Linked DNA regions of Homo sapiens: all the other regions are linked to region 1. The links come from fine-mapping of genetic effects on gene expression. A gene starts in region 1. Each other region holds a variant in brackets. All regions are shown on one strand. Distances are between the middles of the regions.

Region 1 (4,069 bases):
GCATTTCTCAATTTTCTATCAAGGATATTTACCATCATCACATCAAGTTCCAGTCTGTCCCCATTCCTCTTCCTCTGGGAACAGCTCCACCAATTTTATGTCTGGAAAGGGAGGATGACCAGGATATGAGACCTACCCTTAGACAATCATAGGTCCTATGGGACCCCATTCCCTTGGCCAAAGCATTTGGTCTAGGCAGGGTTAAGCCTGTGACAAAGGCTTCATCAATCACAGTCAATGCATTGAACACTCAGTGAGAAAGAAGCAGTCTAGAATAGGGCCAGAGGCCTGGAAATCTTCTCTAAAGCTGCATCTTTAACGTATCTCAACTAAGAATCGGCTAAGTACTTGTGAAGGCTGGTGAGAGAAATGCCTGTCCAAACACAGGTGGCTTCAATAGTGGCACCCCTCTAAGATGTAGTGCTATAAGGAACCTGAAGACTACCATACCCCATTTGCATCAGCTCTGACACCTAAAAAGGATAAAGACAATGGAAAAAAATGCATAATTTTTAGGAACGAGACTGGCCTTTATTATCCTTCTTGACTAGTATTATTAATAGCAGTTACTATAAATTCCCCACTTATGTGCCAGAAACTACTGAGTATTTTACCTATATTATCTCGTTTAATCCTCACACCTTCTCCTAAGAGACAGGTAGTATTATCCCTATTTTACAGACGAGAAATTAAAATTAAAGAGGCAAGCAACTTGCAAAAATCACTGAGCTAGTCAGTGGCTGGTCCAGGATTTGAACCTATGTCTGACAGGTTTATGAGTTTAGCCATTACAATATACTGTCTCACTACTCTTCTCCATTGTTTCCCTCCATTGAGGCCATTGCTTCTTTGTTCCTGCAATATGTCTAACTATTCATTGGTCCTGCTCCTGGACTGTAACACAGTTGAGAGAAAGGAGACTAGTGTTTAGATATCTGATCAAGAAGACCCGAGACCTCATTGATTCATTGTGGAAGCAACATCTTCCACAACGACAGTTAATCTGGTATGCAATTCTCAGCTATACTGTTTTCCCTCCCAAAAAAGGGTTAATAAGTCTGTGATCCAAGAGATTTGCAGTAAGCCCTAGAAACAGCTAAGCAACGGCTGTTGAATCCCATTGGTGTGCCTATAAGATGCTACCTGGTGTAGAGAACAGAATATAATTCTCTCTCCTAGGAATTTAGATGCGCCCCTCCGCCCCCCTGCCAATACACACGCAAGGGGGCATAGCAGATGATGGCACATGTCCCATATGCAAACATGAATAGTAAACATGCTTTAGTACAGCTGGAGCTACTGTAGCAGAAAGTCAGGTTGTCTGCTACTCCACCTGGTCTTCTTAAAGGATTGGGTCTGGACATTCACCTCTCAGTGACTGCCACTCCCCATATATATCACAGGTTCAGGCTCTGCATTCAGCCCATTCGGAGTGTGTGAGTGCTAACATGGAACTCTCCAGGAGACAGCAAGCAGAAATGTGGATGATTAAAATAAAGGGTTTTCTTTGGCAATCTCAATTGCAAATGAGGATAAGGAAAATCCTCCCAGCTCACACTCTGCTCCCAGCTACTTGTTCTTGAGTTAAATGAGGGCTTGGCTCTGGCCTCAGGGGGCAAGAGCACTGTTCGTTATTTGGTGGTGGGGGAGGGGGTTGGGGGATCCGTCAGCACTTACATGCCTTTAGAGAATCTGCCTTTACAGAACTTGAAGAGCTCTGATGGAGGAACAGAGATGCTGTGGTGGTAGTGGCCTTGGAGGTGGTGGTAGTGGCAATGGTGATGATGATGATGATGAAAGAAGAAGAAAACGGTGATGGTAAATGTCATCTATAAACACAAGCAAAAAGCAGCAACAGATACCTTTCTAGTCATTGCCAACCATAGTCATGAAGCTGCTTCTGTTCCCAATGCAATCCCATTGTGGTGCTCCCCCTCTGCGCTAAACACATCCAGCTTCAAAAAAAAAAAAAAAAAAAAAAAAAAGCTCTGCATCTCTCCGTCCCCCGCCCTCCCGCCCTCCCGCCCTCCACCTTTCCTGTGCCAAGCTGGGAATGAGACTGCACTGGCGGGTCAAGGGGGCTGGGACCTGAGAGTCAACGACAGGAGTTCTGTAGTGAGGAGCGTTGGGATGACCCGGAGGGCCCACCAACGTACTTGGGAGCAGCTTGGTGGGGGAGCTGGAGGAACCGACACAGAAGGGGAGGAAGATAAGCTGGCGGGGTAAATAGACTTGATGCCTCATTCCAAGAACCCTGAAAGCCACGGGGGAAGGCGGAGCAGGCAGCCTTTGGTCGGGAAGAAGAGACGGGCAGATGGCCAGCAGAACAGACAAGACTCTCTTTACCTGACCAATACTCGGGAGGCTGGTCCCGAGTCCCAGCTACTCGGGAGGCTGAGGCAGGAGGATTGCTTACGGCAACAGCCGTGGCGGCTGCAGCCTCGAAGGATGCTGCGCTCCAGTCCAGAGCCAAAGCCCAAAGGGGCAGCTGCGCCGACCTCCACCGAGGCTCCGCCCCACAGGCCACAGGCCCCGCCTTCCTAGCACGCGCCGGCCTGACGAGCTGTTTGGGGGAGGTGAGCAGTAAACTGATCGGCAGGGCTGAAGACCAGTGGAAACGTGCAGCGGCGCCCGAGGTGGCAGGGGAGGCGGGGCGGGAGGCGGCGGTGCCCAATCAGCAGCCGAGCCGTTGGGCCAGGCTGGGAAGCAGTGCTGTCTTTTGGCACCGTCTGATCCGGGCTGAGGGATTGAAGGCGGTGGTCGCTAAGCTAGGTCTAAGACGGACAGCCAGGGCGACAACCAGTCTCTCGCTACGTGTCCCCAGCTTCCCTGTTTCCGAGCGCCTCTCAAGGCGCACGCTCTGGACTTGTTCAGATGGGGGAAGGGAACTGGTCTGGAACTCCCCACTATTCCCGAGGTTCCCACGCCTCCAGATCCGGAGAGGCCGTTTCGCTCCAGTGGCCTGGCCCCCCTGCCCCCTCAGCCTAGCCGTTCTTGATCGTAAGTGCTAAAAGGAACAAAGAAGGAGAATTCAAGAATCCACACATAAGCCCAAACCCTGACAGGAGCCTTTTCCTCTCCCATCTCCTGCCTACGCTTCCTCCTAGTAGCTTTTTAACTGCTGGCGGTTAAGTTACTTTGACTGGTTTGAATTAAACGCAAAATAGGTTTAGGCTGAGAAATGGGCCAGACCCTTGGCGATCTGAGAAAGAAAGACTGAGTCCGGATGTCAAGAGGCCTGGGCCTCACGAGGGAGTTTGTCTGCTTATTTGAACACCTCAGAGTTGAAGATCTTGTTACTGCTATTTCTGTGCTGGTGAATCAGTACAGACCTTGATGCCAAGGTACTGTTTTGTCCCCAAGTGTCTAATCATTACTGAAATGAACTACCTTCAAACCTTTCCTAAGAGGATTTGAGGCCTTAATGTCGTTGAGATTTGGAATGTGATTTGAGTGACACTGAGATCTTTTCCAAGTAGGTAGGCAAGAAAAGGCATTGTCTTTAATCTGCTTTTGGATAAATGCGAACTGTATCACCCATTTGGTACTTGAAGATAGAATTTTGTCCTGAATAGATTCTGTTTTCAAATAAGTAAATGGGAAAAAAATTTGGAAGGTATTTTTAAGGTGATTTTTTTCACTATTTTTTTTCTAGAAATAATAGTTTATTGGAACTCTGATTTATTCTTAATCACAATATTAGCCAAACACTGATAGGCCCTTTATTTATTTGTTTTTTTAACACACGGTCTCACTCTGTCACCCAGGCTGGGGTGCAGTGGTGCGATCTTGGCTCACTGCAGCCTCAACCCCGTGGGCTAAAGCCATCCTCCCAACTCAGCCTCCAAAGTACCTGGGACTACAGGCGGGCACCACCATGTCCAGCTAATTTTTTAATTTTTTATTTGTAGGGACAGGGTTTCACCATATTGCCCAAGCTGGTCTCAAACTCCTAAGCTCAAGCGATCTTCCCTTCTCAGCCTCCCAAAATGCCGAGATTACAGTTGTGAAGTGCTGTGCCCGGCTCCATAGGCACTTCATATACATTATCTCCTTCAATCCTCATATC
Region 2 (4,069 bases), 66 kb before region 1:
TGCCCATTCTTCAATAGACCAGAAAGAAGAAAGGAAGCAGCAGGAAATGGGCGGAAGTGTTAAGTTGCAAATCCTGGCAGCATGCCCAGAATGGGACCAACTCAGCAGACAGGAAGCGAAGGCAATAAAAGAGCAATCTACGCTACAGGCAGGCTGGAGCAGAAACTCGGGAAAGGAGGGAAGACAGATTACTGGAACAGCCAGTTTGCAGGGCCATGAAACCCGAACTCTTTTCGATCCGCCTTCCTGGCGAGTCTTCTGGCTCTGAAACTTTGGGAAGGAAAACTGATACCCATAAATAACTGTGGCTGTATAACTGCAAAGTGGGATAAACGTTTCATCTTGATTAAACGTAAGGTGACTCCTGACAAAGAACTGTGGTTGGCTGACTCTGTGGAGAGGCTTGCAAGATGCTGTCATGACTACATGTGGGAGTTTGAGAAAACTGCAAGATGCATGTTGCAAAAAGACATATTAAGCTTTCTGCTGTTTTCCAGGCACTGTATCAGGAGCTGGTTGGGGGAGTGATGAACGAGATAGCATCCTGTTAACAAGCAGTAGCAGACTTCCCATGTTACATTCTCTCAAACAGAGAGGAGGTCAGGCCAGATCTGTTTCTCCTCAAAAATATAATCTCAAGAAAAATCAACTGGTCGGATCATCACTACCTAACCACAGATCTCCCTCCTTATTCTTCACAACAAGAATCCGTCAAATAAGTAACGTCATGGTTAATGCTCCTCCACATTCAACCTGGACCCTAAATCCCTCTAAATAACTTGACTCTGTTCATACACAGACCACCCACTTTACCAGTCTCAAAGGATGGACCAGAACAACTATTTCCTTGAGTTAATGAGTGAACCTACATCTAACTGTAAATAAAACACTAAAAATAGGTAACTATTACTTACTAAATGAAACCCAAGTGTAACTTTCCATTAAACTCAACCTGAATAAAGTTTTTAAACAGTGAACCTTTTAAAACAGAAACCAGTCTGTAAGCATCCTAAAGCTAGTCAACCAAGACAGAAGTTAAAACACAAGTATTTTCCAATCAAACTCAGCACCATTCCAACTGAAGCTTCCACTTGGGGCTGTGAAACCCTCTTTGGACGTAAGCTATGCTGAACCTGTGGTTTCAGGCAGGTTATATTGTAATGATAGGGGAAACCAATGCCACATCCACTTGCAGTGTCTGTAGAGAACTACATCTTGCCACACATCCAAGATCTCATTCCTCAGTCTCCCTGAAAAATTCTGTTGGTAAGAGAGAAGTGAGACAGTGCTGTTTCCGAGGAATCTTATGCCTCTCTTTATTCTACAACAAATGGAGACAGATGGAAATAGAAGAAGAGGCAGCAACAGGACAGGAGAAAGGAAAGAAAGGGGAAAGGAAGGTAACAGAAGGGCAACGGGGGAAGGGGAAAATAGACAAATCATAGCAGAATGCCCAGACACGACACAGGTCAGGTGACAGAAAGGACAAAAAAGATGGGAGAAGAAAACCAAGAATGAGGCCAGAAGAAGGGAGAGGAGACACCATGGTGATGGGAGCAGTAGAGAGTGTAACAGAAGTAGGATGGAGAAATAAAGCAAGCAAACAAATTGCTCCCGGGAAAAAAAGCAAAAAGCAGACTTACGAGCAACCAAAGACCATAATTTCCAACACCCTCAGAGAGCAATAATTAGAAGCGCAACAGTTGGGAATTTGAACATGGCTGCTGACTAGGCCCGACCATCAACGGGGTCTGATTCCGGGCCTGATCCTTGACGATCTCAAGGATTCACCAGCCTCTCTCCGAACTCCAACTGCCCGCCATTTGTTCATCAACAAAATCATTCTTTCTACCTCCTAAAAGAATTTTTATTCCTATGACATTGCAAGGTCCATTTATAAAAAGCCTCATGCAAGTTCTCAGAGTCATTACACTGAGAATGAAACAGCGTGATATGTTAAGTAAACACATACCGAGTCCGGAGTTTCTTGCTTCCGATGCGTTCGTGGTCTAACTTCACAAACATACCCGCGGACCTTTGCGGCAAGTGTTACAGCTCTTAAAGACGGTGCGTCCGGATGCTCCGGTGAGTTTGTAGTCTCACTGACTTCACGAATAAACCCGCGGACCCTCACGGTAAGTGT[G/T]ACAGCTCTTAAAGGTGATGTGGTGAATTTTAAAGCCCTTAAAAGTGGTATGGACCCAAACGGTGAGCAGCAGCAAGATTTACTGTCACGAGCAAAATAACAAAGCCTCCGCAATGCGGAAGACAACCGGAGCAGACTGCAGAGGCCTGCGTGCGTGGCCAGCTTTTATTCCCTTATTTGGCCCCACCCATGCCCTGCTTATTGGTCCATTTTACAGAGTGCTGATTGGTCCATTTTACAGAGTGCTGATTGGTCCATTTTACAGAGTGCTGATTGGTCCATTTTTACAGAATGCTGATTGGTGCATTTACAATCCTCTAGCTAGACACAGAGCACTGATTGGTGCATTTACAATCCTCTAGCTAGGCAGAAAAGTTCTCCAAGTCCCCACAAAACCCAGAAGCCCAGCTGGCTTCACCTCTCAATATTTTAAAGCTCAATGTAACTCGGAGAAAACAGCAATTAAGTAATACCACAATGCAGTTAGCTACCAGAATTTGGGGACAGGAATTGAAACCACTCAGTGAAATCTAGAAATTTCAGATTATAAATATGTGCTTTAAATATAAATAATATAGTATGCCATACTTCTTTTCCAAATGAGGTAAATCACTAAACTTAACTGAGCTGAAATAAATCTGAGGCTGGTGTAGCAATGTGTATAAATAACCGTGGTAAGATTACCAAAACACTGTTGAAATCTGGGTATCTTTGAGAGCTTTCTCAGTACCTGCACATGGGTAAGTTGAAATACTTCTATTTCTAACATACCTTTCAACTGACAGGTTAAACTGGTATATGCTGATGCCCACTTCCTGGCATGCATGCCATCCCAGACACCTCCATAAGCATGACCTTATGAGTCTCACAACCATCCACTGTCGTGGGTGTCACCCCAATCCTACAGATGAGGAGACTGAATCTGAGGGTGGCTCAGGTCACACAGCTGATCACTGGCAGAGCCAAGATATGGACCCAGGGCTTTACTCCAAGTCTGAGACATTTTGTAAGATAACCAGACTGCCTCCATGGCTCACACCTCTGACCAGAAAAGAGTTGACTAGCAATTTTTTTTTTTTTTTTTTTTTTTGAGACAGAGTCTCGTTCTGTCGCCCAGGCTGGAGTGCAGTGGCACAATCTCGGCTCACTGCAACCTCCACCTCCCAGGTTCAAGCCATTCCCCTACCTCAGCCTCCCAAGTAGCTGGGACTACAGGCACACGCCAACATGCCCAGCCAATTTTTTTTGTACTTTAGTAGAGACGGGGTTTCACCATGTTGGCCAGGATGGTCTCATCCATCGTGATCCACCTGCCTTGGTGATCCACCTCGTGATCCACCTGACCTCGTGATCCACCTGCCTTGGCCTTCCAAAGTACTGGGATTATAGGCATGAGCCACAGCACCCAGCCTATTTTTTCATTCTTGATCCAAGTTCCTGCAAATTCAGAAAACCTTCCTCTTATGCCAGTTAAGATTGCCCTGCTAGCATTTTCTTTCTATTTTCATTATTTATTATAACTATTTATGTCATTGAGGAGAAATTCGTTGTGTTCAGAAGACTGTACAGAACTCAAAATATTGCCCTACATGTATATACATAAATATACACACTTCAAAACTAAATATATAGACAATTTTTCAAATGCTTAAGGTTAAGAATCAGTTTTATGAAACAATGTAGAAATATCAACAGAGATTGAGACAAGTTGTGGGCTGCACTGTAGTTTATTATAGCAAAGATCAGCAACCTAAGAATGAGATAAGGAGGTTTAAAAAATTAAGGTGATTTCATCCACTGGAGTATGTGCAAACATTAAAATTAATTTTAAGCAATTTTGATGACAAGAAAATGCTGTGATATAAGGCAATTTTGTTAATAGGTATATGCATTTTCAAAAGCCCAAATCATTAAGTGATAATTTCA
Region 3 (4,069 bases), 82 kb before region 1:
CTGGGCCTAATACCTGGGTGATGAAATAATATGTACAACAACCCCCCATGACACGTTTACCTATGTAACAAATCTTTACATGTATCCCCAAATCTAAAATGAAAGTTAAAAAAAAAAAATGCAAGCTCAAAGAACATTTCACTGTAAATCAGGAAGTCTAAAACCTTAAAAACCTAAAAAAGTAAGACAGTGCCCATGGATGTTTAAGTTAGCACCAGCACTTCACCTAGCAACTGGACACAGCAAGTTCCCATTAAATATTTATTGAATACATAAATGGGTAAGTGCACGAATACTCTTCAGGCAAAAAGTATATTGAATAAAATTTGGAGAAACAATTTGGTAATAAATATTAAAATAACTGATAATTGTCATACTTTTGACAATATAACGCTTCTCCTAGGAATCTACCATAAACAAATTCTCTAAAATGCAAACATTCTATGCAAAAATACCTGTCAGATTATTAGGACACTAAAAAACCATAAGCAAGTAAAGTGTCCAGAATTAGGTAAATAATACATAGATGGTCTATTCTCTTTGCAGAATTGTTCACAATAACTGAAACAATATTTATGAAAAGTTAAAAAACACAGGAAATGCTTATAACATGTGGAACCAAAAGGTTATGTATCAAGTTCAGGAAATTTTTTAAAGTACAGTAAAAAGACTGGAAATAAATGTAAATTTTAGCAGTAATTTTTCTATGGGTGGTGATAATGGAAGGTTTTTTTCGTATCCTTATGAATCTTCTATATTTTTCTATAATGGCCATATAATAGTTTTGTAACAAAAAGGTAAAATTCTGTATTAACCAAGGAGAGCATTTTTTGAGAATAGCTATTCTGTCATGCATCTCAAATAATATCAGTAAAACACGTCCCCCCGCCCCTCACATTGACGCTTCTTTTTCTTTTTAATATTTGATTATATTCAGATTAAATTTATATAAACACAGATCATTAAAGCATTTTGATGACTAACAGTCTTTTATTTAAAAATGCAATATTAAATCCCAATTAAAACTATTTTGCTATTCCTTTAGCCATTTTCTCTGTTATTAAAACAAAAATAAGAACAACTTGTCAGTATTTTTAGTCCATTAAAATTTTCCCACATTAAAACAATTTTTAATGTCTTGGCATGCAGTATATTTTTACTAACCTTAAAGAAGTTCTAAAAACAACTCCTTTACATTTTTCAAGATGCCTTTGTACAGCAATTATGATAATTATTCCGAGTAAATGAGTTAACACATGTGAAAAAGTGCTATGGAATTATAAACTGCCATTCAAATGTTAGTTTTACATTTTTATGGTATGCTATTCCTGACCTTACATTCATTTCTCATGGCATATTTCCATTTCCCTCACAATCTATGAGATGATTCATTTGTGTGTTTTCCATGGTGCTTTGCACATGCCCTCTATAAATCACACTGATTTTTAAAATGTACATTGTAAAATGCTTTCAACCCTACACAAGTTAATTTAAAAAATAAAAAAACTTAAAGGATCCTTTGAAATGCAAATCGAAACCTCAGTAGGATACCACTTCACTGGGATGGCTATAATTAAAAAGGCAGATAACAACAAGTGTTCATGAGGCTGTGAAGAAGTTGGGACTCTCACAAGATTGCTGGTGGGAGCCTAAAAT[G/A]GTACAGCAGCTCCAGAAAACAGTCTTGGCATTTCCTCAAAAGGTTAAATCAAGAATTAGAATACAACTCAGCAATTTCACTCCTAGAAATAAATCCAAGAAATATAAAAGCACATGTCCACACAAAAACTTGTACACAAATGTTCGTAGCATTACGCATAATAGCCAAAAGGTGGAAATAACTCAAATGTTTGTCTACTTATGAATGGATAAACAAAATGTGCTATATCCATATGAAGGAGTATCTTTTGCCTATAAAAAAATCTCAAAAACATGCTAAGTAGATGTGGCCAGTCACAAAGACCACAATATTGCATGATACCACTTACATGAAATTTCCAGAACAGGCAAATCTACGGAGGCAGAAAGAAGCTCAGTGATAACTTGGGCTGGACGGGGTTGTGGGAAAATGGTGAGTGACTTCTGATGGTATGGGGGTTTTGGGGGAGGTGATGAAAATGTTATAAAGTTGATTTTGATGATGGTTGTACAACTGAATATATTAGAAACCACTGAATTGTACATTTTAAATGAGTGAATTATATGGCATGTGTATTATATCTTAATAAAGCTGTTTTTAAAAAGACTCAAGTTACCATTTTATATGAATTGGTTGTATCACATTTTACTGTAATTTTTTGGAAAGAACTGTAGTGTTAACAAAGTTTTTGTATCTTTTTACAATTTCATGTCTATGAAAACAAAAAGCTATATAAATAAAGATTTTAACCACAGCATTTTTATTGGTTTCAACTTGGAAACAATTTAAATGTCTAATAATGGATTTAGTACCATAGTCATCTACATGATAAAATGTTACCCCTTAAAATTATAAAGGTATAATTAAAGAGATGGTATATAAACATTAGAAGTTTGAAATAATGTTAGGTGGCAGTGCATAAAACAAAATATTTTTATATAATTTTGTTTCCATGACCTTTGTTATTTAAAAACACCTATCTCTATGAAGAGTTGAGGTGGTTGGATTATAGAAGATTTTGTTGTTCTGTACTAGTTTTCTTACATAATTCTTTTAATTAAGAAAAGAGGAACTGTTATTGCTCCATTAAACAAGTACTAAGCACAACTATGCAATGAAATTAAAAGGTTCCCTAGAGATGCCGAACCTAAGAGCATTCGGTACCTGCAGCAAAGAATTTCAGGCACTAGTGCTTAGTTTAACCCCTATCATAAAAACACTCCAAAGATATTAGAGGCAAGAAGGTGGTTACAAAAATTCCAGCTCATCAACTGACTGGCCTATATTCTACTTGTACATCTGGTGTATTTTTTCACCACTACTTGTTGAGTACGTGATAACAGTCACGGCTGCCCAATCAACAGAATTTTAGGATATTTTCCCTGTTCTGCTAGAGATCACATGGGAAATGTGGGTTGCTAGGAAGTGGTGTGGGTAAATGGCAAGAAATGAAGGGCATTTGCAGCAGAGTTATCCAAATGTCAAGGCCTACACAGCTACTGGGTTTATATCGTCAGAAAGGTTAAGCCTCCAGGTTACAGCTGCCCTAGGCAGTCCTGGTGTACTGGGACAAAGGGGAAGGCAGGGAAAGTCTAAGAGAACCTTCGCTGTTAGGTGCTTTGACAACAGTGTCTTCTCTATTTTCTTCACAATGCCTCAGTGTGGCGGAACAAAAGAACAAAATACTTATATCTAAAGTACAACCAAAGTGTTTAACACCCCCAAGGCATATCTACCTCTCAATATGCTGTTTCAAATATCTGCATTTATTGGTGTAATTTGGATGCTTTGTGGCCAAAGCTTGACCTGTGTACTGTGTGATCATTTGTTAGGGGGTTGCTCACTTTCTGACATATTCTTACCTAAAGGTCAGTGGGCTCCTTGACATGAATTCAAACAACTTCAGTGAAGTAATTAAACAGGATGAGTGTTGCCATGTATTTGTAACGTAGGTCCACTACAAAATTTGAATTATCTATTGTTTTAAACTATATAAGCTTATTTTTTTCAATTAATAGTTCAGTGATTTCATTCCAGCCTTTCTTTCTTTACAAAATTTTTGTTGTTGTCTTATACTGTTTATGTAACATAGATGTGAACATAGGGTACGATATAGACAATTATGCAGCCTCTTTTTTCCAACAACAGTTTGCTCCTCCATGAAGTACGACCCTGCTCCCCCATCTTTAGTCAATACCTGCGCTCCTACAGAAAACACAAAAATCATCCAGTGTCAGTATACGGAGGCACCTTCCTCTACAGCCCACCTCATACCCCAATTTAAATAGTACCACCACCCACCTTCTGTTACTTCTCCCCCTTCTAGACAGGGGCCCCACGTTGAACACTGTGCATTGGATTCCTGGTGCTCCACCTCAGAGCCAGCTTCCATGGCCACGTCAGTTCTTTCATCTGTGACTCCTTCCAGACGGT
Region 4 (4,069 bases), 120 kb before region 1:
GATTCTAATTTACTCGTAAACCCAAATAGGGATTTCATAGAGAACTTACTCAGGATCGACTGAGCCACTTCAAGTCCGGCTTCTGGTTTTGCTGGTTCTGACACATCACTGCCATCCAGAGAATTATCAACGTTCTCCATGTCTCAGTAATGCCCTTGGTGGAAGTTCTGACTTGTGTTACCTTCTCCTGCGCTCTCAGTTTATCCACTCCATCTGCTCTTAATTTACAGGACAGAGAGCAACAGGACCCGGGAGTCAGGCTGTCAGCCGCACAGCAAACACACTTGGTCTCTTTCGGGTCACAGTGCCCTCCTTCCGGTTTGTGCGATGATGTGTTCCAGGGCAACTGTGAAAAATCTGTGGAGTCTATGCCCAGAAGCAGCCGAGGCTGCGCACCTTACTACACACGGACCAGGGAGGCTGCTCTTCTGAAACTTCCGTATTTATTCCCGGGGACAAAAGCCTTTTTGTCATAGGGAAAGTCAGCCTGCCCTGTAATCCCAACCCAGGACTTCACGAGGAGCTCCGCCCCAGGCCGGCGGTTCTCCTGGTGGCATTCAACTTCCTCATTGGTGAGCAAGTGAAGGCTTCTGAAAGTGCTGAGCCGGCAAGCTGATACTGAGGGCACTTAGCCACTGCCCAGAGCAGCCTAAGGGAATCAGAAGTAAATCAGCAGAAAACAACTGAAATACTTCTGACACAGGCCTTCTTTTTCATCTGGATTATGATCAGAGAGGCCTGGGGCATCCAGGCCAAAAAACTAGCAGTACACCCAGATCAGCAGCCACTTACGAAGCCGCAATCAAGGAAACAAATTAAAGAAAGCAATAGATCATCTCAAAAGTGCCTAGAACTCTCAAAGCAGTTAATTTACTGCCCTTGAAGCTTTTTTTAAGTGCTTTCTTCCGCTTCCCTGCAGGTTTCATCTGGAATGCAGATTTTAGCTCCTAAAGCCCGTGAGGGATAACCCACACGACTGGTTTCAGATGACTGCTGTTTTAGCTCTGCCCTAGCTGTCTCAGTGCTCTACAAACAGGTATTAGGCAAGCACACCCACCACACCCAGTGTCCACCAGCAACAGGGTGGCAGAGTAAACAGCCCAGGCTCCGCAGGAATGATTACCCTCTACACTCCCTGTGCCAACCGCAGGCTTCTTTCTGCTCAGCAGCTGTGACTTCCTGGCTGCCTTAGAAATCCTGGCAGCAGCAGGACACGCCTCTCCCCCTTTGGTGTCCCAGCCAACTAAATGAAACCTGGCATGACACAGTGTAACACACAACCTGCCCTATTAGACAAAACAATTTGAAGATCCCCAAGGATCCACGTTCTCCTAAAGGGCAAAACATCTGAAAAGTCTCTATCAGTCAGATCTCTATCACAGACCCAATTTGCCTCAACAAAAACAGGACAGACAAAACAACCTCCAAACATCAGCCCAGTGTAGTTTCTACCACTCTATTTATATGCTGGGAAACTGGCAACAAAGGATGGGGGTAAAAATTGCAGCCCTGTTTCCTAGCTGCATAGCTGCCTCTTGGGACAGCTCCCTATCTACCTGAAGGCCTCAAGTGTTTTCCAAATCCAGTCCCACTAAGCAGGCATGCAGTGAGTGCCTGGGATGGACAGGACACTGTTCTGGTTGGAGAGGCAAGTCAAACTGGCTGAACAGTAATTGCCATCTCTGTTTGAGCAAAGGTCCAAGAAGATTGTGGTCAAGTGTTAAACACAAACAGTAATTCCTTCTGCAAAATGGAAATGGTAGCCATAAGGAAAATGACAGTCTTGCTTTATCTGCAGGAGTGGGTGGCTGCATGTCACACATTGATAACTTGAGCCATGTTCTTCAGTACTAAAAACAATCTAAGCATCAATACTGAGAAATTCTGATTGCAAAAATACATTTCTAGCAATGTATTCAAAAGGAACGCTCACACAAATAAAAACGCATCATTGCATCCCATCAACCACTAAGGGTAAGTAAAACACTTTCTAAATCTTGATTTGATCTTGTGTTTTAAACAGGTACTTCTCTGTTTGCTCCTGATCATAGTATTTTTGGGAATTATTAACTGAGGCACTTAATCAAAAAGCCACCAGGACACTGCAGAAAAATTCAATGGTGTCTTTTAAGTCTAAGAACAAGATTCTTGTCTAGAGGAAATACCCATTGATTAAAATCAGACATCTGCTTCTTCAAGATTGTAGAAAGAAGAAATGATCACAACAGATCATAAGATCAGTCTTTCTCTTTTTTTTTTTTTTTTTTTTTTTTTTTTTGAGACCGAGTTTCGCTCTTCTTGCCCAGGCTGGAGTGGAATGGTGCAATCTCCGCTCACCACAACCCCCGCCTCCC[G/A]GGTTCAAGTGATTCTTCTGCCTCGGCCTCCTGAGTAGCTGGAATTACAGGAATGCGCTAGCACACCCGGCTAATTTTGTATTTTTAGTAGAGACAAGGTTTCTCCATGTTGGTCAGGCTGGTCTCGAACTCGTGGCCTCAGGTGATCCGCCCGCCTCGGCCTCCCAAAGTGCTAGGATTACAGGCATGAGCCACCGCGCCCGGCCTAAGATCAGTCTTCTTACGAGCAATGCAGATCATCCAATTCTAATATGGCAGGGGGCAGTGGGAGAGGGCACGTATTTGGTCTTTTTTTTTTTTTTTTTTATGAACTGAAAAGACTCAATTTCTCAGACATAACTAATTATTGATTTCTGGAATAAGCTTCCAGGCCCCTCTATAGATTTGGGCAAAATGGAACAGATGCTGGAAGGGGCTACTGGCCCTTCTGCACCATGGCATGGAGCAGAATTATAAGGTTTCAGTATCCCCTCAATACTCATAGATGCCAACACAATTTCATGGGAAGTGGGTCAAGTCTTTGGTCCCAGGAGATTATCTGATTTCATCCCCTTGGCTCTAGGTAAGTAAGGTATTATTAGGCCCATTTTTAAAGGTAAGCAACCATAGCTGAGAGAAGGTAACTTGCCAAACTTAACACAGCTAGTAAGTGGGGAATAACATCATCTAAGATTTGAGGGTTGACCATGTGCCAAGCACAATTTTAGGTGCTCCACACATATTAACTCACTTAATACAGATAACAACCATATTATGAGTTGTTATTATTATTATTCTCTTTTTCCTGCTAGAGAACCGAGGCACAGAAGATTAAAAGTCTTGCCAGTCCACAGAAACAGTGGATGGTGGAAGTATAATGTGAATCCATGCAGGCAGGCTCCAGCATCCACACTCTCAACCACTCTTCGAAAGCCCAGAGGCTCCACTTCCTTCCCGAATAGAAGACCACACACAGCGAGGTGCAAAGGTTTCAGCCCAGTTCATTGGTGGTCTTTAACTGGGATGTGAAGTATACTTTATCCTCTTAAATGACACAGAAGACAAACATCACCAAAAACAAACAAACAAACAAAAAACAACAACCTTATACTGAGGATGACTGTTCTTTTCTTTTGCATAACTTGGGGAAAAATCTACAAGTTTTCTTAGGAAAAAATGGAGAGAGAGGAAAGAAAAATCAAGCAAAAATTCCAGTAAACCTAGCTGGCCTATCTATCTAACACAGAAGAGACACGGAATCCTCTGGGCTCAAACACATCAAGGTTTTCCAGTTTGCCCCTACCATTCTCCTTCATTTATGAAGCATGACTTCTATTAAGAAGACTTCTTCATCCAATGTCATAAATGAGCACCAACAATGAATGAGGCTGTGAGGACATAAGAATGAAGATAGCCCTGCCTTCCACCTCCATGAAATGTGTAGTTTAGTTGGAGATCTCTATTTAGAAAGAGGAGACTCTTGTTTACAGACTGTAACCAAGGACTTTATCCCCCAGGTTCAGTCTAATAGTAATAGCTAGACCTGAAACAATTTTGAATGAAAGCCAGCAGTGACCATTTAAATATGAACACGAGTAACAGGAGCACGAGTAAGATTCAAAGAGATCTTTTAACACGGACTCTTTCAAGCCACTGGTTCTCATGACCATAAAAAATGTTACCACTGCTGGTCACTCAGGGAATGAGAGTGTTTCAGATTGTAATATTCAAATAAG
Region 5 (4,069 bases), 110 kb before region 1:
TTGTTCTTAAACTAAAAACAAAAGAAAACAAGTCCAGAAGTAGTGGAGCGGTAGAAGGACTTAACATTTAAGTACTTGAGTCTAGACTCAGATCTGGGTTTAAATCCTGCCCGTGCCCTTGCTGATTTGTACAGTATGTATACTAACACCTCTAAGGGCAGGGTCTGGCCTTTAGGAAGTGATCGGTAAGACATGGAGGTTCTTATTACCGTTTAGACAGTCAAGCTTGGGAGGAGCCTTGGTAATTACATCCAGGTTCATAAGATACAATTACTTGGAACGGGATGCTTTGTCTTCCCCAGACAATTAAGCTAATTCAGTAAAAAGTATGCAGGGCCTCACAGGTGAGAAGGGGATTGTGATGAGCCTTGGAAACCAGAATCAACAAGAAGAGTTCAGGGGTGTGTGTGTGTGTGTGTGTGTGTGTGTGTGTGTAAGACGGAGTCTCGCTTTGTCACCCAGGCTGGAAAACAATGTGTGTGTGTGTGTGTGTGTGTGTGTGTGTGTGTGTGTAAGACAGAGTCTCGCTCTGTCACCTCTGCCTCCCAGTTCAAGCGATTCTTCTGCCTCAGCCTCCCGAGCATCTGGGATTACAGGCGCCCACCGCCACGGTCGGCTAATTTTTGTGTTTTCAGTAGAGACGGGGTTTCATCATGTTGGTCAGGCTGGTCTCCAACTCCCGACCTCAGGTGATCCACCTGCCTCGGCCTCCCAAAGTGTTTTAAAAGCTGGCATGCAAAATCTTATTTCCAGAGAGTACTGCCACCAGGATATAATCCTAATGACTACTTACCTGTTTCCTGCTTTTCATATCTTTGTTTTCAATTTCAGGCCATACCTCTTTTTAGGGTCTTTTCTACCCACCCATGTCTTTGTTTATAGACACATTACAAACTATTCTCCATGGTGAGCATTCCTCTCCAATGGTATCTTCAGGAAACTGCACTTGTTATAAGAATTTAGGCCCCAGTGCTTCTCTAGTCTCTGACTATATTCAGTTGCCTTTGATAAATCTGGTTGAAAGTGCCCTAGGACCTGAGATGCATGGCTAATGGTAGCTCCTAGTTCAGTGGAACATAAAAAACTGACTCTTCAGGCTAACTTCTTAATATTCATGTCCTAAATGGGCGCTCCGGGGTGACTGATAGATGCTACCCAAGGGCAATTCACACATTTGGATCTTGTTTCAAAAGTAATATCTAGGAGTGATAGAGTTAGTTAATAAAATATAGGATACCCAGTTAAATATGAATTTTAGATTAAAAAAAACCAAAAAATTTTGTAATATAGGCATGTCCCATACAATATTTGGAAACTTCATGGCCCAAAAGTGGAGCTGACAGAGCTTTGGGTTCAGTCTTTCCAGAGCTTTGTAGTTTGCCCATAATAGTCTACAGAATTTGCTTGACCAGGATTTGCAGGATAATTACCCAAACAGAGCTTCCCTACACAGCAGTCTAGCATCTACACCAAAGTACCAGTTGTGTGATATACTGATATAATGAGAAATACACTGTATATTTCGTCTTCATCTGGGTCCTGGACAGAACTTCTAAAACCCTCGTAACTTCTTAAGTGATAAGAGCCATAGAAGTAGTAATAATATTTGGATATACTCAAATATATTCAAATATATATAGAAGTTGTAATATTTGTTTTTTGTCCTCAGCTTCTGAAACAGCTCAGAAACAATATTGGTGAAAGGGGCATCTTTTGTTATTCAGAACAAGCCCCTTTCAACTACACTTGAACTTATGTTAATGAGGTGACTTTTAGAGGATGGGAGGCTGGTTGCCAAGGGAACCTTGTGATTAGGGTTGGCATTTTGCGTCCCAACAACTCACCTCCAGGAGGGTAGAGAGGCTAAAGGTTGAGCTAATCACCAATGTAATGAAATCTGCATAAAAACCCTACCCAAAGAAGTTCTGTCTCCACAGGGACAGACGCTCTTGTGCTCTGGACCCTTCCAGACCTCACCCTATGTATCTCTTGATCTGGCTATTCATTTGTATCCTTTAAAAATATCCTTTGTAATAAATTGGTAATGTCAGAGACGTTTGAACCACAGCGACTTCATCTTGAATAGGGGATGGGTAAAATAAGGCTGAGACCTGCTGGGCTGCATTCCTAGTAGATTAGGCATTCTTAGTCACAGGATAAAAAAGAAGGTTACCACAAGATACAGGTCACAAAGACCCTGCTGATACAGGATGTCATAAAGAAGCCAGCCAAAACCCACCAAAACCAAGATGGCTACAAAAGTGACCTCTGGTCATCCTCACGGCTCATTACATGCTAATTATAA[C/T]GCATCAGCATGCTAAAAGACACTCCCAACAGTGCCATGACAGTTTGCAAATGCCATGGTCATGTTGGGAAGTTTGCTTATATGGTCTAAAAAGGGGAGGGACCCTCAATTCCAGGAAATCCCTGCCCCTTTCCTGGAAAACTCATGAATAATTCACCCCTTATTTAGCATACAATTAAGAAATAACTACAGGTATATTCAGTCAAGCAGCCCACACCACTGTGCTCTGCCTATGGAGTAGCTATTCTTTTATTCCTTTACTTTCTTAGTAAACCTGCTTTTACTTTATGGACTTGCCCCAAATTCTCTCTTGTGTAAGGTCCAAGAACCCTTTCTTGGGGTCTGGATCAAGACCCCTATCTGGTAACAGTAATAGTCAGTAAATTGTTTCCTTGGGTTGTACAAGTTATCCTAGCAAATTACTGAACCCGAAGAGGGGGTCATAGGAACCTATTTGTATCCAAGTTGGACAGAAGTTATGGGTAACCTGGGAACCCACTACTTGTGACTGGCATCTGAGGTGTGGCAGTTTTGTGGGACCGAATCCTTAACTTGTGGGATGTGGCTACAGTTCCAAGTAGATCGTGTCAATTGAATTGTGGGACATCTAGTTGGTGTCTACAGGCAATTGGGGAATTGCTTGTTATGAAAAACACGTACACTTGGGTCTCAGAATGTCAGAAGTGTTGTGAAGGTAAAGGAGGTTTTGTTTGTTTGTTTGTTTTCATTTAGTTTGTTAAATAGATGCCCCCAGAGTCTTCCTAGTGCTTGTCCTACACCAACCCCACCTCCTGCCATTCCCCAAGGAACCCCTGAGTCTTCTCATAGTTTAGTAACTAAAAGATGAATGCCCAGCTAAATGAGGGGACTTAGTAACAGCTGTAGCCTTAACACCAGTGTCCATCCTGACTCACGGATGCCAACTCCCACCAATTATTTCAAGTATGAGATGTTTTACCTTTCATCACGTACTAATGAGAGTCAGTGTAGCCACAGAAAAAGGCTTAAGAAAGTTAACATCCTGATTGTGACGCTGCAAGTCAGGTTTAAAACTGGAAGCACGGCAGTGCTGGTCCAATGTCTCAGGCTGATCAATATATTGCTTAGAGTCCAAAGCCCACCAGAGGAAAGGGGTTTTTGTGAGCTGCTAGTCATTAACAGCAGGCTATTTTTTTCTTCTTTTTTTACTTTTTGATTTCTGTAAGCTATTGGGAAACAGGTGCTGTTTGGTTACATGAGTTAAGTTCTTTAGTGGTGATTTATGAGATTTGCACCCATCACCCAAGCAGTATACACTGCCCCAATTTGTAGTCTTTTATAGGATACACATTTGTTCTAAATAAGTAGAATCCTTTCAGATAGAAACCTTACCTAGAATATCAATATTTAAACATATAGGAGTCAAATCACACTGTCCAAAGAGGGGAGAAGGGCTTGAGGTGAGGAAGGAAACACAGGGCCCAAACTATAAAAACTGTTGATTCAGAAAATAATCTAAAAAAACTATTTTAGTTTTATAATTCTGATTAATGAAAAACTAAGCAACATACTAATATATACTGTTTAATTACACAGTATTTATATATACAAATATATATATCACATGTATTTATACATATATTAAAATTATACATATATACATATGCATAATTTATATATCATATATGTAATATATAAATATATAAAGCCCATAAAAGGCTAGTTCAGGAAATAGACATTTTTCATCTAGTGATAAATATCAAAAAACCTAAAAATACTTATAGA
Region 6 (4,069 bases), 57 kb before region 1:
AAATAAATAAATAAGTAGGAAAACATTTTGAGTTACAATGTTTCACAGCTAAAATAAAGGTAGCCTATACATGGGAAATATTTTGCTTTTTGAGTTTCTCCCTTCATATTATCTTCCAAAGCCCCGCTTTTTTTGGTCTCCCAAGGAATGTTTTTTAAGTGTCAAAATTCACACAAAATGTTTGACTTGCACTTTAGATGTTAAATATACAACTATTTGAGGATCTTGCGCTAGAAGGTTCTCTACATAAATTATTTTTTCAAAAGGCCAGTGTAACCTTTTGAGAGTCTTTATCATCTCACCCTTTTTCTGAAGTCCTGTTTTGTAAAAATGTGCCCTTAGAAATAAAGAGAATATTGATTTTGCAATGTTGGTACAAACTGGACAACAGCAGGAAGATCTCAAAATAAGATAAGCCACTGCACAGCACAGCACAGAATAACCCAGTTAGGGAGGAGAATGTCTGCTCTGTCAGTCTGTCTTCCCTGGCACTGCTTCTCGCTGGCATCAAGTAGGAAAGATCCCTTTCAGCTTGACACAAGTATGCACTGTCCTTCTGAAATATGAGAAAAGCAGTTCCCTCAGGAACAAGGAGGCCTCGTGCCAGAGGTTAGTGAAGCTGGAGAAACCGAGAGCTTGGCTGGCAAGGACTGTGTAAGATGGGACTCTCTCTGTTGGAATGCTAGTGGAATCAGTTAGGTTACTTCCCCAAGGTTATGCAATGTTCTTAAAATATACTACTTAACACTGGATAGAATTCTTATCGTGCATTGCGTACCAATACTAACTGTTCTATTCTATGAACCAAAAAAACCATGGAATGTCTTTTCCCATCACCCACATGCCCTGCTGTACATAGAGTATACAATTGGCTGATTATGTTTTGGTCTTCACCCTTCTAGAATGAGTGTGAGCTCCATGAGGACAGGAATTAGCTTTGCTTTTTTCTGTTTTGCCTACTGCTCTGTCTACTATACTTAGAACAATGATGAATATATGATAGGGATTCAATAAATATTTGTTGAATAAAAAATGTTTTGAATGCTTTTGTAGATATAAATATAAATAATCAGAATGATGGAGCTGTGTTCACTACTTAAGTTCAGAGCAGATGGCTTCATGGCCACTGAAATTATCCCCATGACATCACAATGTGGTACAAAGGGAGGACACAGGATTTAACATCAATGTTGTCCCTCTGCTGTTTACTTAGCAAGGTACCCTCTCTGAGTCTTAGCTCCATCCTCACTCAAAGAGAGATGTCATTATCTGCTTCAGGGACAGGACTGTTAAAAATTGCACAAAAGTATATGTCTTGGAGAGGTTTAAATTTCATGGGAGAATATGAAAAACACACATTTTTATGCATATATACAGTCTACCCACGTAGACAAGAAAGACGTATAACCATAAACACAGAGACAGACGTGTTTGGGAAGAGCTTCAAATAGGACTATGGAATAGTTCTTAAACTCCCACTTCCTAATTTTATAACAGATTTCAGGGTGAAAATGTCTAAGCAAGTGGTTTTTTTTGATGAACCATGTTTTAGTTATTTCCTCCTAAAAACAGAAGCAAGGATCGTGGTAATG[G/A]CTCTACAGGGTTTGGCTCTGAAATGTGTCATCAGTCAAGATAAATTTGTGCTGGTCAATATAACCCTAAAAACAATGTTTTCTCTTTAATTTCTATCACCTGTTTTAAAGGTATTTTTATCTGCTATATTGAATGCAAGTCCCTTAAATGATTTCTGGAATGAGGTAGAACATAACCAAATAAATAATTTTTTAAAGTAGACAGAAACATGCCAGGCATGGTGGCTCACGCCTGTAATCCCAGCACTTTGGGAGGCCAACGCAGGCAGATCACCTGAGATCAGGAGTTCGAAACCAGCCTGGCCAACATGGTGAAACCCTGTCTCTACTAAAAATACAAAAGTTAGCCAGGCGTGGTGGCGGGAGCCTGTAGTCCCAGCTACCTGGGAGGCTGAAGCAGAAGAATCGCTTGAACCCGGGAGGCAGAGGTTGCAGTGAGCCAAAATCACAACACTGCACTCCAGCCTGGGCGACAGAGCAAGACCCCGTCTCAAAAAAAAAAAAAAAAAAAAAAAAAAAGACAGAAAAACATACCCTCCCCAAACAGGGATTTTTAAGAGAATCTGATAACAATGTATGTAAAAGTTCTGGGTAAGCAATGAAGTGTGTACCCACAGATGTCACTGAAATTGGTGGTTCTTATTCACAGCTGGCTTTCAGCCCATGCCACCCTTGCCTTTCCCCATTCCCTGTTGCCATGGGACCTTCACTGTTGCCTGCACTCAGTAGCAAAGCACCTCTTCTACATTTGCCTCTTCTACTTAAGAGGCCAGGGTAGGAGTTTTAGAAGCATTCCAGAGTTCCCTCTGCCTACCTTGAATGAGAAGGGTAGCTATATATATTTCTAAGAGGAAAAAGGAAATCTGTATGATTCCAAACTAATCCCAAAGAGTAAGACATGACTGATCAGTAGAGCCCCAGATTAATGAGCTCAGAGGATAATGTTTAATGATATCACCAAAGAAGTGTCCACATTTCTTCCCAGGAGAGGATTCTGATTTTTATTCAGATTCCATACAAGAAATTACTTTTCCTACCACCACCGGACAATGTATTTCCTTTCAACATACTATGTAAAATGCTTGCACATTTCTTTACACTGGGGTATGGCTTCTCTACATGATTACAGACATCAGAGCTAAGAGGGGAGCATCAGGTACTGCGGTTTCTTAAAGAACCCACCACCATACAGCTTGCCCAACAAATTGCCCTTCTGCTGTGTTCCAGGTTTTCAACTCATCCCCTGTTACAAGGCACAGTCATGAAGAGATGAGGGACTGCAGCTGCAGTCGGCCAGACCTGGTGTGACTCTGGGTTCTGCCTCTTATTAGCTGGGTGACATGGGCCACGTACTTCACTTCTCTGACTTTCCATTGCTTCCTCTGTAAGATGGAGATAATAATAACTATTGTGTAGATTATGGTTTGGCTTCAATACAATATTTGTCAACTGTCCAAGTCAGTATCTGGTACACAAGAATAAAGGACTGCTGTTGCTGTTACTGCTATTTGTTAACCAGTATCCATAAGCACAACTGCCTGCTATGACACAGGACAACGAAAGTGATGAAGGCACATGAGCAGATAAAATAAACATTGGAAAAGGCCTCCAGGAAATGCTCTGTCAGCAGGAACACTATCATTGACTGCCTGTACTTGAGGGAATCAGATTTCTATCGAGTAACCTAAAGATGAGTAGGTGAAATGTATCACCGACTCTTGGCTCCTGGGCTCTGCAGCTGTTGCTCCTTATCCTCACTAGCTTCATTCAGTTTCATTTTTCTTCCCTTTTGCTAATGCAATGTGGCCTATGCAGGTGTCCCTATATTCCCATCATCTCCTCCTCTGACATCTCTCCCCAAGGACAGTCTGGCACGTCCCTCAACGTTCCCAGCGAGATACTGCCACCTTCCTCTTGTCTAACCTCTCAATGTGGGCATACAGAGGCTTGAATTATCCTAGCAAACTTTGTATTTTCATGGGTTACTAGATAACCTGACTCCTCCTGGAAGTGAGGATACTATTGCTGTCTTCATTAAACCAGGTACACAGCTTTGAAACAAAGCTCTGATTATTCTAAAACACAGGGTTCTTCTAAGTATGAGAGCTATGATTTAGGGCTCCAATCTGGCTCAGATATCGGTTCACATCATCATGCTATGTCCCTCCCAGCATGAAGAGATGGTGGCCATAGTAGTGGGAGAGGAAAACAAAGGGTTCAGGGCAGAGGCTAGGAGCAGCATCCTTCCAAAGTCTGCTCTGGCCCTTCACTATCTCTGACCTAACCTCAAAATCTCCTTGTATTTCAAGACCCTGGAGAAGTTCTTCATGAAGTAATGATGAGTAGGTTCGTCTAATCTCTTCTGGTGAATGGAGGACTAGGAGAGGATGAGAGGCACACTGGCCATACCAAGCCCACAATTTTCCAGTCTGGGGATATTACTAATGATATTTTAATAATTATGTAAGATTATGACA
Region 7 (4,066 bases), 89 kb before region 1:
GTACCAGGCACTCCAGCATCTGACACAGTGCCTGTGTTTAGTAGATATATAATAATATCTGTTGAATACAATAATTGTTGAATATACATTACATGAACAGTTTTATGTTCAGAACATCCAGGTTTTTCAGGTGATAAGATCTACTCTTTTTTATCAGTCCTAATGAACACTTACTATTGAGCTTAGCATAGACTCTGTAGCAGAACAGTTTTGGTTTAAATCTCAGCTCCAACCTCTTACTAGCCAAGAGACCTTGGCAATTTGTTTAACCTCTCTATGTCCCAGTCTCCTCTGTGAAAGGGGGAAATAATGGTTCTCACCTTCTGGAGTTACTATAAAGATTAAAGAGTTAATATTATACAATGGACTCAGAGCAGTGCCTGGCACCTATAGTACATAAACACTGGCTGTTAGAATTATTACTCTCTGCTCAGTGCTGAATTAGACCCTGTAGAGGGCAAAAAGGTAGAATGAGACAGAGCTCCATTTCTCCAAAGGATTCACTTTCGAGTTCCAATGAATGGTTCAACAAATGTGTTCTCTAATTTTATCCATTGTGAAATATTTGAAATGTTGTTTCTCATCCTCCCTTCAAACTAAAATATACCAAAGGAGAAAAACAAAAACCCTAATCCACCAAAATGAGCTTCATTTTGTTATGTAGAAGAGTATTTAAGGTGCCAGGGTCTTTTCAGAATGTTTTGTTCAGCAAAGTTATCATGGTTTCTATTCTATTACACCTTGAATTTATTTGGTCAAGCTTAAAATTAACCCAAATCATCTTTAATTTAGGAACCTGTTTTTAGCATCTTATCACTATCTGAAAATTGCCCTTTTCTTCCCCCTGAGGTAATTTCAAATGTTATTTTACCATGCCTTGGGGGCATAATCCTACCAGAAAATACAGCTCCAATTTAAAATGCAAGTCAGAAGAAAAATCAATTTACTAAAAGAAAATTAACTTCATCGGCAAAATTTTCAGGAAGGAACTGATCCTTAAAGTTAACAAAATCTGTACTAAGAATAAAATTGAGTTCATCATATATTTGTCAGCTGAAAAAAACTTTTATCAATACAGTCAAGTGCATGATAAACATTCCCTAAAACGACTTCACCAAATGATAAAATAGAAACTTTTGAGACTCACATTGGTAAGAAATGATAAGATGCACAAATTTGTCAATAATGGCTTCAAAACAACAAAGAGCATTAGACTGAACTGTATGGTGCTGACAAGTATTTCAGGAGTCATGTTTTTACTTTGGGCTTAAATTTTACTTATAAATATGTAAGTGGACTTTCTTGCCAAATTTTCACGATTTACAATTTAAAATGAGTCACAACAGTGACTTGTTGCTAAGGAATAGAAGCACCAAATAATTTATTTTCTTTTTATTTGAAATGACAATTATATGTATTACTGATAGAGATGCAGGAAGTTTGAAAGCCACAACCACCCTGGTATGTGGTTGGGGAAAATGATACAACAGAGGACTCACTCAGCACAACTGAAACATGAGATGAACC[T/C]AAGATAGCGCCAGTCACTGAGAACTCAATCAGCTAAAGGAAATGAAAATAAAATTACTAGGGAAGCTAGTAATACGTATGTATTCCTGAAGCAATGTTTTCCACCTAATGTAATTCTCAAATAGTTTTGTGATTTTCCATGGAGCCAAGGATTGTGTGAATTAACTGAAAAAGAAAAAAGAGTAAAGGAAAAATGAGATAATTTGATATAAATTTGTAAAGGTATTACTTTACTAAAGGGATTTGACACTACTTGCTTTGCAGAAATTAAAATATATCATTTCTATGTTAAAAACAATGCTAATTTCAGTCTTAATATTTGCACCATCCAAAGAAAGAGCAAAAAGCTGAATCTAATTGGTGGTGATTTCTGTGATAAGCAATAAGCAAAAGATAGAATGACCCTCTCCCTCTCCAAGAGCTCTGAGAGGTGGTGGAGATGCCCTGGGATGTGGCACTTTGCAAGCTGGGGAGCTATCTCACTACATAGTACATGCTCTGGTCTGACACAATCTCTCTCACTGTCTTCAAAGAGGGAATGAGCAACCAAAGGGTTAATATTAAACATTTTTTTCCCCTGGCTGTAATGATTCTAAGACAGGTGCTCTCTGTGCTCTGGATGTTTCATTACTAAATGGAGCTATGTCCCCACTGGTCAGAACTGGGGAGCAGGGGTCATCCCTCAGAATTAGAAACAAAGACTTTCCTTGGGCCACTTTGAGATCCTCCTGTCAAGAAAAAAATAAAACGGACAATAAAAGGGTAGGGGTTGCAATTAATAGCTAGCATAATTTACCCTATTAAAAATAGGATTGTAGGGGATTTGGTGGGGTATCAGAGGAATCTAGAGGATAATTTAGCAGAAGACTCCCATAATATTATCTAGATGGACTGTCAATGGTTCAGACTTCTCAGAAATAAACGGTTGTCTTCACCAAAGAATCCAGACCAGCTGAAATGCTGCCTAAAGGCAAGGCTGACTTGAAATGGGTAATGACTGGGGAAAGGTTTACAGACTATATGGCTTTGAGATCAGGCGGAAAAATAGGGAATCTTGACTAAAACTGTATTTTCTTATGTACTGTTTGGATATCTAAAGATTAATTACTTCCTGTTTTCTCTTTCAATAAATATCTACTTTTCCTTTTCTTCACTTTTTTTTGGTCTCACTACTGGGATATATTATTTACAATAAAAGTATCCATTGATTCATAAGGTTATAAAATGTTGTAATAGGACAAGAAAAAAAAAACTTCTCAGCAACGACTCAAAGAACAGGGTGCCTATGGCATCACTCCAGATCTCATTACTGTCTGAGCTTGTACTGTCTCCTATTAGTGAGAAAGGGTTTGCAGTTATGCCTGGTAGAGCTGAGTCTGCTGCTCTTTGATGTGTAGCATGAAGGGGTGAAAGCTGGAAAGTACCCCTTAGAATGGCTGTCCATCCCATGATTGTTCTGCCTTCTCTCGGAACTGCTCCCAGTACATAAGGGGAGGCTCTGAGCAGCCATGTCTCAACCTGATCTGGAGTCGCTGGATCTGAATCTTATAAATGGCAGAAAATATCCAGGAACTTTTGCTTATGGGATTCTCAGTACTTCCTGGTTGCCACCTGGCCCAATATTACTATTCAATTTTTCCTTGCTTCTTAACATACCATAATGTTCTGTAAATAAATTCCTATTTTGATTACAGCTAACCAGAATCCACACACACACACACACACACGCACGCACACACACACAGACACAAAACGCTAAGCAACGAGAATGCCAAAATTTCATTTGGCATTGTCTCTGTGGCCTTTTTTTTAAAGTCAGCTTTCTTCAATGTGTACATGATTCTACAAAAGTGTATAAACATCATTTAAATCTATTAGCTTTTAGAGGAATTTTGAGTCATTCTGATATATCCCCAAATTTTCATCATCTCATGGAACTTCTCAGGAGCATCCAGCAGGGTTGAATGCATACTTTTTCTTGAAGTTCCTTTTCAGAAAACACTCTTTCCATCCAAGTTCTCCTGAGTTCACTGTTCACTCTTCAGTTGCCTTGCTGGCTCCTCATCCTTCTAAATCAGTGTTCTAAATCTCAGCACCATTGAAATTTTGGGCCAGATAACTGTTTTCTGTGGGAGGATGACCTTTGCACTGTACAATAGGATGTTCAGCAGCATCCCTTGACCTCTACTCACTAGTTAATAGTAGCATCCCCTCCCCAATCCCTTGGCCAACTAAAATCTCTGAAATCGCCCCTAGTTGAGAAGCACTGCTCTAAATGTTTCAGCACCCCAAAGATATGTGCAGAATCTTCTCTGTCTTCATTCACTCCATCTGTCATCTCATTCAGTCTCAGTTTTAAATATCATCTCAGCTCTAGTGACTTCCAAATTAATGTATCTGGCCATAAGCTCTCGCCCTATCTCATACAGGCACCCAAGTACTCTACTCATTGCTTGGCTAATACTCATTCCAAACTCTTTATTTTCCTTCTAACTTTGTTCTTCCCCCAGTCTTTCCCACCTAATTAAATAGCTCTCAG

Evidence for each region. PIP is the estimated chance that this variant, and not a neighbour inherited with it, causes the effect.
Region 2: its variant is fine-mapped to the expression of FMN1 in whole blood (TOPMed, PIP above 0.99).
Region 3: its variant is fine-mapped to the expression of FMN1 in atrial appendage (GTEx, PIP above 0.99).
Region 4: its variant is fine-mapped to the expression of FMN1 in thyroid (GTEx, PIP above 0.99).
Region 5: its variant is fine-mapped to the expression of FMN1 in whole blood (INTERVAL, PIP above 0.99).
Region 6: its variant is fine-mapped to the expression of FMN1 in monocytes (Quach 2016, PIP 0.95).
Region 7: its variant is fine-mapped to the expression of FMN1 in whole blood (TOPMed, PIP above 0.99). The same link has a PIP of 0.9 or more in blood mononuclear cells.

Annotation. Positions count from the first base shown.
Region 1 is chr15:33,192,232-33,196,300 of GRCh38, forward strand. It overlaps FMN1 (formin 1), which reads right to left and starts at 2,483. Exons shown (of 21, transcript NM_001277313.2): 1 at 2,347-2,483; 2 at 1,678-1,829. It overlaps LOC105370759 (a long non-coding RNA gene), which reads left to right and starts at 2,680. Exons shown (of 3, transcript XR_932090.3): 1 at 2,680-3,344. RefSeq lists silencers at 2,462-2,801, 2,576-2,785.
Region 2 is chr15:33,126,578-33,130,646 of GRCh38, forward strand. The region is part of intron 4 of FMN1 (formin 1); the gene reads right to left. Among named protein-coding and RNA genes, the nearest start is that of FMN1, 66 kb to the right of the region's middle. The variant G/T (reference allele first, on the strand shown) is at 2,144.
Region 3 is chr15:33,109,734-33,113,802 of GRCh38, forward strand. All of the region lies in intron 4 of FMN1 (formin 1), which reads right to left. Among named protein-coding and RNA genes, the nearest start is that of FMN1, 83 kb to the right of the region's middle. The variant G/A (reference allele first, on the strand shown) is at 1,657.
Region 4 is chr15:33,067,745-33,071,813 of GRCh38, forward strand. The region is part of intron 5 of FMN1 (formin 1); the gene reads right to left. It overlaps LOC124903459 (a long non-coding RNA gene), which reads left to right. Exons shown (of 2, transcript XR_007064574.1): 1 at 1-1,974; 2 at 3,146-4,069. Among named protein-coding and RNA genes, the nearest start is that of FMN1, 120 kb to the right of the region's middle. RefSeq lists an enhancer at 1-146. The variant G/A (reference allele first, on the strand shown) is at 2,355.
Region 5 is chr15:33,081,620-33,085,688 of GRCh38, forward strand. All of the region lies in intron 5 of FMN1 (formin 1), which reads right to left. Among named protein-coding and RNA genes, the nearest start is that of FMN1, 110 kb to the right of the region's middle. The variant C/T (reference allele first, on the strand shown) is at 2,306.
Region 6 is chr15:33,135,004-33,139,072 of GRCh38, forward strand. All of the region lies in intron 4 of FMN1 (formin 1), which reads right to left. Among named protein-coding and RNA genes, the nearest start is that of FMN1, 58 kb to the right of the region's middle. The variant G/A (reference allele first, on the strand shown) is at 1,593.
Region 7 is chr15:33,103,042-33,107,107 of GRCh38, forward strand. The region is part of intron 4 of FMN1 (formin 1); the gene reads right to left. Among named protein-coding and RNA genes, the nearest start is that of FMN1, 90 kb to the right of the region's middle. The variant T/C (reference allele first, on the strand shown) is at 1,528.